Linked DNA regions of Homo sapiens: regions 1, 3 and 4 are each linked to region 2. The links come from fine-mapping of genetic effects on gene expression. A gene starts in region 2. Each other region holds a variant in brackets. All regions are shown on one strand. Distances are from middle to middle.

Evidence for each region. PIP is the estimated chance that this variant, and not a neighbour inherited with it, causes the effect. A credible set is the group of variants that fine-mapping cannot tell apart.
Region 1: its variant is the best candidate, but not a certain one, in a credible set for the expression of EFCAB8 in whole blood (TOPMed, PIP 0.52).
Region 3: its variant is the best candidate, but not a certain one, in a credible set for the expression of EFCAB8 in whole blood (TOPMed, PIP 0.58).
Region 4: its variant is the best candidate, but not a certain one, in a credible set for the expression of EFCAB8 in whole blood (TOPMed, PIP 0.67).

The regions. Positions count from the first base shown.
Region 1 is chr20:32,897,077-32,899,830 of GRCh38, reverse strand. EFCAB8 (EF-hand calcium binding domain 8) reads right to left here. Exons shown (of 27, transcript NM_001143967.2): 11 at 1,208-1,338. Among named protein-coding and RNA genes, the nearest start is that of EFCAB8, 40 kb to the right of the region's middle. The variant T/C (reference allele first, on the strand shown) is at 1,431.
Region 2 is chr20:32,857,448-32,860,201 of GRCh38, reverse strand. It overlaps EFCAB8 (EF-hand calcium binding domain 8), which reads right to left and starts at 1,279. Exons shown (of 27, transcript NM_001143967.2): 1 at 1,196-1,279. LOC119746555 (a long non-coding RNA gene) reads right to left here. Exons shown (of 1, transcript NR_171378.1): 1 at 1,451-2,754. RefSeq lists an enhancer at 600-1,412.
Region 3 is chr20:32,803,780-32,806,279 of GRCh38, reverse strand. It overlaps DNMT3B (DNA methyltransferase 3 beta), which reads right to left. Exons shown (of 23, transcript NM_006892.4): 21 at 873-942; 22 at 1-71. Among named protein-coding and RNA genes, the nearest start is that of MAPRE1, 15 kb to the left of the region's middle. RefSeq lists an enhancer at 1,452-2,265. The variant G/A (reference allele first, on the strand shown) is at 1,288.
Region 4 is chr20:32,940,639-32,943,392 of GRCh38, reverse strand. The region is part of intron 22 of EFCAB8 (EF-hand calcium binding domain 8); the gene reads right to left. Among named protein-coding and RNA genes, the nearest start is that of SUN5, 62 kb to the left of the region's middle. The variant C/A (reference allele first, on the strand shown) is at 1,671.

The sequences.
Region 1 (2,754 bases), 40 kb before region 2:
AGGCCGAGGCGGGCTGATAACCTGAGATCAGGAGTTCGAGACCAGCCTGACCAACACAGAGAAACCCCGTCTCTACTAAAAATACAAAATTAGCCGAGCATGGTGGTGCGTGCCTGTAATCCCAGGTACTCGGGAGGCTGAGGCAGGAGAATCACTTGAACCCGGGAGGCAGAGGTTGTGGCGAGCCGAGATCGCACCATTACACTCCAGCCTGGGCAACAAGAGTGAAACTCTGTCACAAAAAGAAAAAAAGAAAAAAAACCAGAAGTGGTGGCTTTTGATAACTGGGTCAGGGAATGGCGATTGAATAAGGAGGGGGCCCCTCAGGACTCCAACCTTCTTTATAATGTTTTCATTTTTTACATGGACAATGCATTTAATACATACTTGTGTGATTAATTGGTTTTTCTTTTTTTTTTTTTTTTTGAGACGGAGTCTCACTGTGTCCCCCAGGCTGGAGTGCAGTGGCGCAATCTCGGCTCACTGCAAGCTCCACCTCCTGGGTTCACACCATTCTCCTGCCTCAGCCTCCCGAGTAGCTGGGACTACAGGTGCTTACCACCACGCCCGGCTAATTATTATTATTATTATTATTATTATTGTATTTTTAGTAGAGACGGGGTTTCGCCATGTTAGCCAGGATGGTCTCGATCTCCTGACCTCATGATCCACCCACCTCGGCTTCCCAAAGTGCTGGGATTACTGGCGTGAGCCACCGCGCCCGGTGACTAACTAGTTTTTCAAAAGAAAAGAAAAAACTTCACTCTAGGGTAGAGGAATCTAGACTGAAGGAAACAGATTGGAACCATCTGCAAAGAACCAATGCTGCCAGTTACTGAACACATACCACAGAGGATTCCCTCATGCAACCCTTCAGGAAGTGAGGTACGTGCTTTCACACCCTTTCACAGATGAGGGAACTGAGGGTCACAGAGGAGAAAGTAACTCACAGTCATCCCTTCATTCAGAAAACATTTCACTGACTGCCAATCACTCTGTGCTGGCTTCTATGCTGAGTTTTGCATATAGATTGGGAGATAAAAGAGGCTGCTGTGTTCTCACCGTGCTGCTGCTGGCAATGCTGGAAAAACTAAACCCCAGAGTCCATACACCAACCACCATCTGCCACTGTCAGCCCCCATGGTCCACTCACCACCCCCCTCCCTTCCAGCCCCACCGCCTTAGCCAGGAGAGAAGCACTTCTTACCTGGGTTTCTTAGAGGCTTTGGCTGGCAATATTGTCAGCACCAGAGAGGACTTCTCGATGGCTGAACAGGAGACTACCACATTCATCTGGGGGATGAACTTGACCTGCTCACACCAGTTGGGATGGAGAGCCTGGGAAGACAGTAGCAATGGTGGGAGACTCCACCCAAGGACAACTTTCTAGGCCCAGCCCCCAGAACATGACCAGGTGCTGGGACTGGAGG[T/C]GCCCAGAGATCACGGAGTCTAATGCCCTTCTCCTAGTGATCACAAAGTGATGTGGCCCCGCAATCCTAGCCCAGGTCCTATGACCAGCACTGGCCATCTCTCGTCACTGAAAATTTTTAAAAGCACACAAGCCTACTTTCATTTGAAATCTTGTGAGTTAGAGGATGGGGAAGGTCAGGCCCATACTAATCATCTCCCACGAGGAGAGAAAGGATGAATTCAAGTCTGTCCAGGCCACAATCTAGTTATCCACAGGGAGCCCCCTCTACAGATGGGCTGTGCTCCCAGCCCACTGCCACCCTCCATGTTTGTCATAGCGTGGAGTGCTCAAGGAAGCGCGGAGGGCATGAGAATGTGCATTTCACGGCAACTTGAACCACAAAAGATGACGCGCAGTCGAAGGGGCTGGCTGGGCTCTGAATTCTCCGGCGCCAACTCTGTGACCTGGACCAGTGCTTGGCCTCCCAATCTAGAGATTTTCCTCTCTGTGACGAGAATGGAAAAGGCGGGTTGGAGAGATTGGCTCATCAAATATTTCTTTGGTGCTTTCTACATGCAAGACCCTGAGCTGGGTTTTACACACACTGTCACCAAGCATCTGTCGCAATGAAGGCACCGAATCCAAGACACTGAGTGAGACCTGGAGGGAAAACCAAGCCCAAGATGAGCTTCCCACAGAAGACAGAAGAGCGGGTGCAGTGGCTCACACCTGTAAACCCAGCACTTTGGGAGGCCAAGGTAGGTAGACCAGCCTGGGCAACATAGTGAGGCCCCGTCTCAAAAAAAGAATTAAAAAATTAGCTGGGTGTGGTGCTTGTATTCCCAGCTACTCGGGGGCCTGAGGTGGGAGGATCACCTAAGCCCGGGAGGTCAAGGCTGCAGTGAGCCATGATCGCACCACTGCATGCCAGCCAGGGCAGCAGAGTAAGGCCCTGACTCAACCAAAAAAAAAAAAAAAAAGTCAGTGCAGGCCTGTTGGATCACCCAGACCGCCCTGAGTGCGTCATTCATTCATTCATTTGTGCAGCAAATGTATTGGGAGCCCACCAAGCGCAGGGTACTATTTTAGGCACTGGAGACAACCGAGAGCACGAAGCCGCTGCCGTTGAGGAGCTGTCGATCTCGTGAAGGTGACAGCATGAGGAATCAATGGTCGGACCACACAAAGCTGGGAGCTGGTAAACACTGCGGGTGAAGGGATGAAAGCAGAGGTGGGCACAGGGTTGTCCTAGGAGGGCTGCTTGGGACCACAGGAAGTAGATAGGGGGAATACAGGTACCTTAGGGGAGAGCCCCGCGGCCTGAAGGCGCAGCACATGCCGAG
Region 2 (2,754 bases):
TCAGTAGCTGGGATTATAGGTGCACGCCACCATGCCCAGCTAACTTTCGTATTTTTAGTAGAAACAGGATTTCTCCATGTTGGCCAGGCTGGTCTCAAACTCCTTGGCCTCAAGTGCTTTCCGCCCGCCTTGGCTTCCCAAAGTGCTGGGATTACAGGCGTGAGTCACCGCGCCTGGCCAAAATAAAATGCCATGTAAACCAAAGAAAGGCTAAGGAACTGTTAGAGATGAAAGGTGACTCAAGAGACCCAACAACTAAAGGCAATGCACGATTCTGAATTGAATCCGATTGGGAAAAAACAAAAATGCTGCAAGGGCTGTTATTTGGTGAAATTATGTAAAATTTGAACATGGACTCTATATTATTAGATAGCATATTAATGTTTTCTGCTTTTGATAACTGTATTGTGGTTATGAGAATGTCCTTGTTTCAGGAAATGTACACTGAAAAGTATTTAGGGGTAAAAGGGCATGATGTCTGTAATTCTCAAATGGTTTAACAAGTAACATGTATAATAACACAAATGTGGCAAAATGTTCACAATTAGTCTATCTGGACAAAGGGAAGTTCTTTGTAGTAGTCTTACAACTATTTATATATTTTTAATTATTTCAAAACTAAATATTTTGTAAGATAAATGTCTTTCACCAGGAGAAAGTGGTTCTATGTATGTTCATGAACAGAGGTAAAACGCCAAATGGGAAAAAAAGTGCTGGTTGCTGCCAACAGAGACCACCCAAAAGAAAAGGGCAAAAGCAAGAGGGGAGAGGCCAAGACAAGTACCATTCCTCCAACTCTGAAGGGAAGGAAGGGAAGGCTGAGATGTAAAACTCGGTTGATATTTAGAATTGGAGAACAGGTCAGATCAGAAGTCACATCCATCTGCCTCAATCTATTCCCTAAAGTTGACCTGTCCGGAGCTGACGGAAGAGGGGCAGGGCAAGGCAGGTGGGAGAGTACCATCCAGAACAGGGGTGAGAATTCAGAGCAGCCACTAGGGGAACATGCTAGGGATGAGAGGGGAACGAGTGGTTTGTACGAATTTGTAGAGGCAGATGACTTAAGGATACATGCATTGAAAGCCAGCCAGGACACAGATAAGAGCTGCTCTCCAGCCTTGGAGGTCAGGCAGAGGTCTTCAGCAGAGGTATCCAATCTTTTGGAGAGCAACTTTCACCTAAAACCCTCACTCACCCTGACTCAATTTGATCTCCTCAGTTAATCTTGCTGGCAAAGTCTGGCAAAGTGCTAACACTTTCCAACTCCCATCTCAACAAAGACATTGGCAGCTGTTCCCAGTCCAAGACAGCTCCTTTATGAAGTCGAGATGGAACTCTGGGTCTGCTGGTCATATTTAGAACTAGGGAAATGAGACAGAATTCCGTATGAAGAACATAAATGAAGCATCAGAACCCGTCCCACAAACCATAATCACAGAACCATTTTTCATCCAATTTGAAACATTTCTTTTATTGAAGAAGTTGAACTTACAGCAGACAGTGAAAGGAGTTACAGCACTCCAGGACAAACACAGACATAAAATAATACATAAAACAAGTAGCGGGAAACTGGAAGATGCCAGGGAGTCCTCTTATAAAAGCAGGGTTCACCAAAACCAGAAGGCCAACTGGCTCCAGGACAGCGAAAGGCACAGTGGCTCCTCTGCTCCTCTGCCTTCTGCCCCATTTGAAATGGGGGACTTACAAATCCAGACTTCAGGGCAGGCCTAGACTTGATGCAGCCACTGCAATCTTGGTCCATGGTGCAATTTGGCAGACAAGTTGGTGAAAGGTAAGTTGTCTCCAGAGATTTCAATCAGGGACGTGGCTTCCAGATGTTAAAAGATACCCAGCTAAGTCACAAGGAAGTGGATGTTTTCAAATGCTAAGTGACCACCAAACAAAACATTCTCCCTGGGCCTTCACCACTCAGAGAACACCAACATACAAAAACAAAAGTCTGTTCCCATTTCATCAATAATGGAGTTTTAAGGATTTTGTCATAGTGTAGAATATTAAGAATGGATGAATAAAAAGTCAAAAAAGGTGCAGAGGTCCTATAAATCAGGGTTTATTAGACTAGATATTAATAAATTGGAAGGGTTTAAAAAAAAAAAGGCTGTTGGCCCTACATATGACAGTTTCCCATTGTTTCTTAGCTTAGTATATTTATTTTCCAACACAATGTTAGCAATTCTTACAGCAGTTCTTGCATTTTTCCAATAACATTTTTATTAATCAAATGGTATATATTTTTCACTATAACCTATTTTCACTGATTAATACATTTATCAGTATTTTAATGTGGCCTAAAATATGCTAAATTCTGTCACAATAAATATGTTTTTCCCTCCCTGGGGAGAAACACAAGTAAAAAAAGGAAAATATTAAGATGCATTCCACTTTTTAGTTAAGGAAAAGTTCAGAAAACTCCCATCTTTTTAAAAAAGAATGAAAATATGATCCTAAGTAACTCAGGTTAGAAAAACAGTAACAGAGCCAGGCGCAATGGCTCACGCCTATAATCCCAGCACTTTGGGAAGCTGAGGCAGGAGGATCACTTGAGCCCAGGAGTCTGAGATCAGCCCAGGCAACATAGTGAGACCATGTCTCTATTAAAAAAAAAAAAAAATTAAAGAGAGAAAAAAACAGTAATAATAAAACAAGTGGGGAGGAGGACATTTAGAAGAAAAATCTAGATAAACCTCTGCACAAAAATAATTTTGGAAAAAAGTTAGAAGTCCTACCTGAGAT
Region 3 (2,500 bases), 54 kb after region 2:
ACAGGGAAAAGTTGGTTTTTCCCCTGTTTGATCGAGTTCGACTTGGTGGTTATTGTCTGTACTTTCTTTAACTGGAGAACAAAATGACATCATGGAGTGAGCACAGAATGAAGGGACCTGGGGAGTCAAGGCTCAAAAGTACCTGGGAAAGATGGAGGGGAGAGCGCAGGTGCGGCAGAAGAGTGGCAGGGCTGGGAGAGAAAAGTACCTGGGAAAGATGGAAGGGAGAGGGCAGGCGCGGGAGAGGAATGGCAGGGCAGGGAGCGAAAAGCAGAGTTGGAGAGACAAGAACATTTTGTGCTTCCCACAAATGCCAAGACGTTAACAGGAAGGACCAGCCTCAGAGAAAATGAGATAAACAAAAAAGTGACCATGAACGAGATCACGTGGGGGGCCAAGAAGACACCAGAGTTCCTGATCAAGCAAGATTAAGTAAAAAAGTAAAAACCACCCAGATACAGAGAATGCTCAATTGGAGTTTAGAAAATGGATCTTAGCTTGATGCAAACATTGAGATTTAGGTTTATGGAGGTCTTCATATTCTATGACTTGACAGCAAATTAATTTTTTGGCAAAAGGATTAATGATTCCTTTCTCCCTGAGAGGGCCAGCTGAAACTCTTTGTCTTTATGTATCCAGTACTAAAATTAAAAAGACTAGTTGCCTTTTCTCGTCGTGATTACTTATCACGAATGTCTCCTAGTCTCTGTATTTGAGGATGGGACAGAACAATCATGTGGGAGAGGGAAGCCCAACACCAGGAAGTCACGTGGGGGGAGGAGTAGGAACCAATCAAACACCAAGGTCATCTCCCAAGTCCCCACTTGGAGGTCACCAAGTGCATTTTTCCAGAGGGCCACAGCTCGTCTTACCTTGGCTATCCTATTGTATTCCAAGCAGTCCTGCAGCTCGAGTTTATCATTCTTTGATGCTATCACGGGCCTGGGAACAGCCAAAACCCATTACTTCTTACTAGCTATAGAGGGTCCTCTGCTAGGCACAAGGTGGGAGTGAGGGTCTATGTTGCAGAGATGTGCCCTGGCAGTGAACTTGGCTACAAATAAATGATGAAAATGATCCTGGCATGAGCACAAGCCTGTGTGCCAAAGCCAAGGATGGGCTAGAGGGGACAGCCCAGCATCCAGGAGGTAATGCTCCCCTGCCTGGACTTCAAAGTCAGGTTCCCATTGAGCAGGAACACTGCATGGGGTAGGGCAGGAGAAACCTCAGGTCCCAGCTCCACACTGCTCACTGACTGAGCTTGAGCGAGTCACACTACCCCTTTGG[G/A]CTTCCTGTCTATTTTAAAGTGAGGAGCTTGGAATAGATTTTTGTGGGTCTACCTGATACAATTATCATATCACACCCACGGTTTGGTGGCTCACTGCTGGGGATACAGCCTCAGGAGGCTTTAAAAGTGAATGGCAACCGCCTGCAGTGGTTCCTACCCTTAATCCCAGCAATTTGGGAGTTCAAAGCAGGAGGATCGCTTAAGCCTAGGAGTTGGAGGCTACAGTGAGTTATGATTACAACACTGCACTCCAGCCTGGGAGACAGACCCTGTCTCTTAAGGTTCCAAAAAAAAAAAAAAAAAAAAAGACTAAGCACCCTTTTAACTTTCACCCTTGAAAATTATTTTGCAAATGCAGAGAGAGGCAAACAGATGACTAAGAAGGGCAAGGGCTAGAACTGAAAGTAGTTGAGCAGCTCCAGAACAGAAACTGGTGCAAGAGGACTGGACGCAGGGACGGCCATAGTAACCTGTGTTAGGAACGTCAAGGCCAAACAACTCAGACATGAGAACGGGAACCGTGCCTACAAGAGGGGCTGAGGAAATCACAACACATATTTCCCCTAGACTGATAGATTTCCTTGACCTCACCTGCCAGGCTTCAAATGCTACCTCTATCCCCATTCCTACCTCCGACATGGACCCAGGGGAGCTGAGGGCCCAGAAGAAAAGGACACTGCACAGCCCCGCCTTGTGCTGACTATAAGATTAAGCTCTAAACAAGCCAGATGACTTGGGTCTGTCCCCTAAATGATGCCTGACACACCCATCCTATAAGCCTGCAGAGCTTAGTCACAGCATCAGATCTGCATCAGGTCTCACTGCTCTTTCCACCTCATAGCCTACACATCCAATGCATCAGCAAATGTCCTACCCTCCACATATGTTGAATCTGATCCGTCCTTGCTAAGTCACAGGATTGCTGTGCTGCAAACCCCAGGGGCCACCACTCACACTGTGTTCTCTATGGATGGCACCTCCTGGGGCATAACATCATAATCAGTCATCTCTCCTTCTTTGAGCAGTCTAGTCCCTTCACTTGTCTCCCCATTCCCGCCTCCATCCTGTTATTGTCTATAATCCACCCAGAAACTACCATGAACCAAAGCACAATTCATCTCATCTGTAACTTCCCATGCCAAAGTGATTTCAGCGGTACCACATTAAGGCCCAAGTTACTTGGTCCTTCTCTCCCAGCCACCCCACCTAGGG
Region 4 (2,754 bases), 83 kb before region 2:
ATTCACCAAGCTGACTACATATGACTTGCATATGACTTGCATATGACTACATTGTTTACCAAGTGCCTCTGTACACATTATTCCATTTGAACCTCACAACCTTATAAGAAGTATATAATTCTCACTGACTTACAGAGGAGAAAAGTGAGAGTCAGACATGTTCAATAACTAGCCTAAGCCCACATAGCTAGAAAGTGATGGGGCCAGGGCAAGAGCCTCAGTCTTCTAAAGTTTTTCAGCTGGGTATTGGGAGATGAATAGGGTGAGCAATGGGGTGATAAATCACATTACACTGAGAGAATAAAACTACTGAACTGGAAAATGAGTGAAAATGACCATTTTTAAATAAAACAAGATTAATAAAGGAGGACTTATTCGACCATATTCAAGTATGGAAAGTCAGAATAATAAACTTTAAATTTTAAACAAAGCAATGGAAGACAATAGAAAGCTCAGAAACCAACCCAAATGTATGTAAAACTGGTATATAGTAAGAGTGGTAACAGAAAACATGACTCAATAAACAGTAGTAGGATACCTGATGAACTATAAGAGAAACCTACGTTGTTATCTTTTATCTTACACCCAAATGAATACTAGATGCGTTGAAGATTTTATTTTCAATGAAATCATAAAACACCTACAAAAGAACGAATCAGTATTTATCTTTTCTCTAAGAAAGTGATAAACAGGCAAAGGAAAATATCACAATGGGGACAAAAACTGACTTGAACACCAAAAAATATATTGTAATTTTTAAGTCATCATAAATAAAATTAACAAGCAAATGACAAATTGGGGGGGATATTTGTAATCCATATGATAGACAATCAGTTAATCTTTTAATATATTTTTATTGGTTTTTTTTTTTAGAGATGGGGTCTCACTATGTTGCCCAGGCTGGTCTCGAACTGTTAGGCTCAAGCAATCTGCCCACCTTGGCCTCCCAGAGAGCTGGGATTACAGGCATGATCTACCATGCCCAACCTAATGTATTTTTAAATAATTATACAACATTTATAAAAGATAGTTACCACAATAGAAAAGTAGGCAAAGGACATGAAGAGACAATTCATAAAGTTATACAAAGCCAATAGATTAAGAAAATATGTCAACATCACTAATAAACAAAGGCATCTTAATTAAAATCAAAAGAAACCATTTGCACCTAAAAATCAACCAAAAATGTTTTGCTCACTTAGGACATTTATTTATTGAATGCCTTCTATAAGAAAGACACTCTGATAGACCTAGAGGATCCTCAGATGAATACCACTAATAAATTCTTTAGGTTGTCAAAGATAAAAAAAACAGGCTAATGAAATGCAAAACTGTATAAACCTTCTAGAGTGCAATTTTGTAGTATACATTAAAGGCCTTAAAGTGACTTATGTTCTTTTACATACTCTTTCCTTGGGACAAATTACTAGATGTACAAATAAACAACTATAAACAACAACAAAAAACATTTGTGAAAAAGAATATTTGTACCATCATTTTTAGTAATATCTAAACACAACTTTATTGAATCATAATTCACATAAAAATTTACCAATTTAAAGTGCTCATTCAATGGTTTTTAGTATTTTCAGAGCTGTGCAACCACCACCACATTCTATTTTAGACCATTTCATCACCCCAGAAAGAAACTCTTTACCCAGTAGTCACTA[C/A]GCAATTTCCCCAACTCCCTCCCCCAGCCTCAGGAAACCACTAATCTACTTTAATATGGACATTCTGGACATGTCATTTAAGCAGAATCACACAATATATGGTATTTTGTGGTTGGCTTCTTTCACTTAGCACAGTATTTTCAAGGTTCATCCATGTTGTTGCATGCATCAGTACTTTATTCCTTTTTATTATTAAATAACATTCCATTGTATCACCATACCACACTTTATCCATTTGGAAGTTGACATTTGGGTTGTTTCCACTTTTGTATTATAAATAATGCTACTATAAACATTCATGTACAAGATTTTATGTGAACATATGTTTTCATTTCTCTTGGGTATACACTTGGGAGTGGAACTGTTGGGTAATATGGTAAGTCTACACTTAATTTTTGAGGAACTGCCAGACTGTTTTCCAAAGTGACTGCAGCTTTCTATGTTCTTTTTCTTTTTTTTTTTTTAAACAGAGTTTGGAGTTTTGCTCTTGTTGCCCAGACTGGAACGCAATGGCATGATCTCTGCTCACTGCAACCTCCGCCTCCCAGGTTCAAGCGATTCTCCTGCCTCAGCCTCCCGAGTAGCTGGGATTACAGGCACCCGCCATCATGCCCTGCTAATTTTTGTATGTTTAGTAGAGACGGGGTTACACCATGCTGGCCAGGCTGGTCTCAAACTCCTGACCTCATAATCCGCCCACCTCAGCCTCCCAAAGTGCTGGGATTACAGGCCTGAGCCACCGTACCTGGCCAGCTTTCTACATTCTATCCAGCAATGTGTAAGAGTCCCAGTTTGTCCACATCCCAGCCAACCATTGCTATTATCTATAGTTATCCTGGCAAGTGTAAAGTGGGATCTCATTATAGTTTTAATATGCATTTCCCTGATAGCTAATGATGTTCACCATCATTTAATATACTTATTAGCCATTTGTACATCTTCTTTGAAGAAATGTTTATTTAGATCCTTTACCCGTATCTTAATTTGGTTATTTATCATTTTTATCAAGTTGCAAGAGTGCTTTATATATTCTGGATACTAGTCCCTTATCAGATATATGATTTGCAAGTATTTTCTTTCAGGT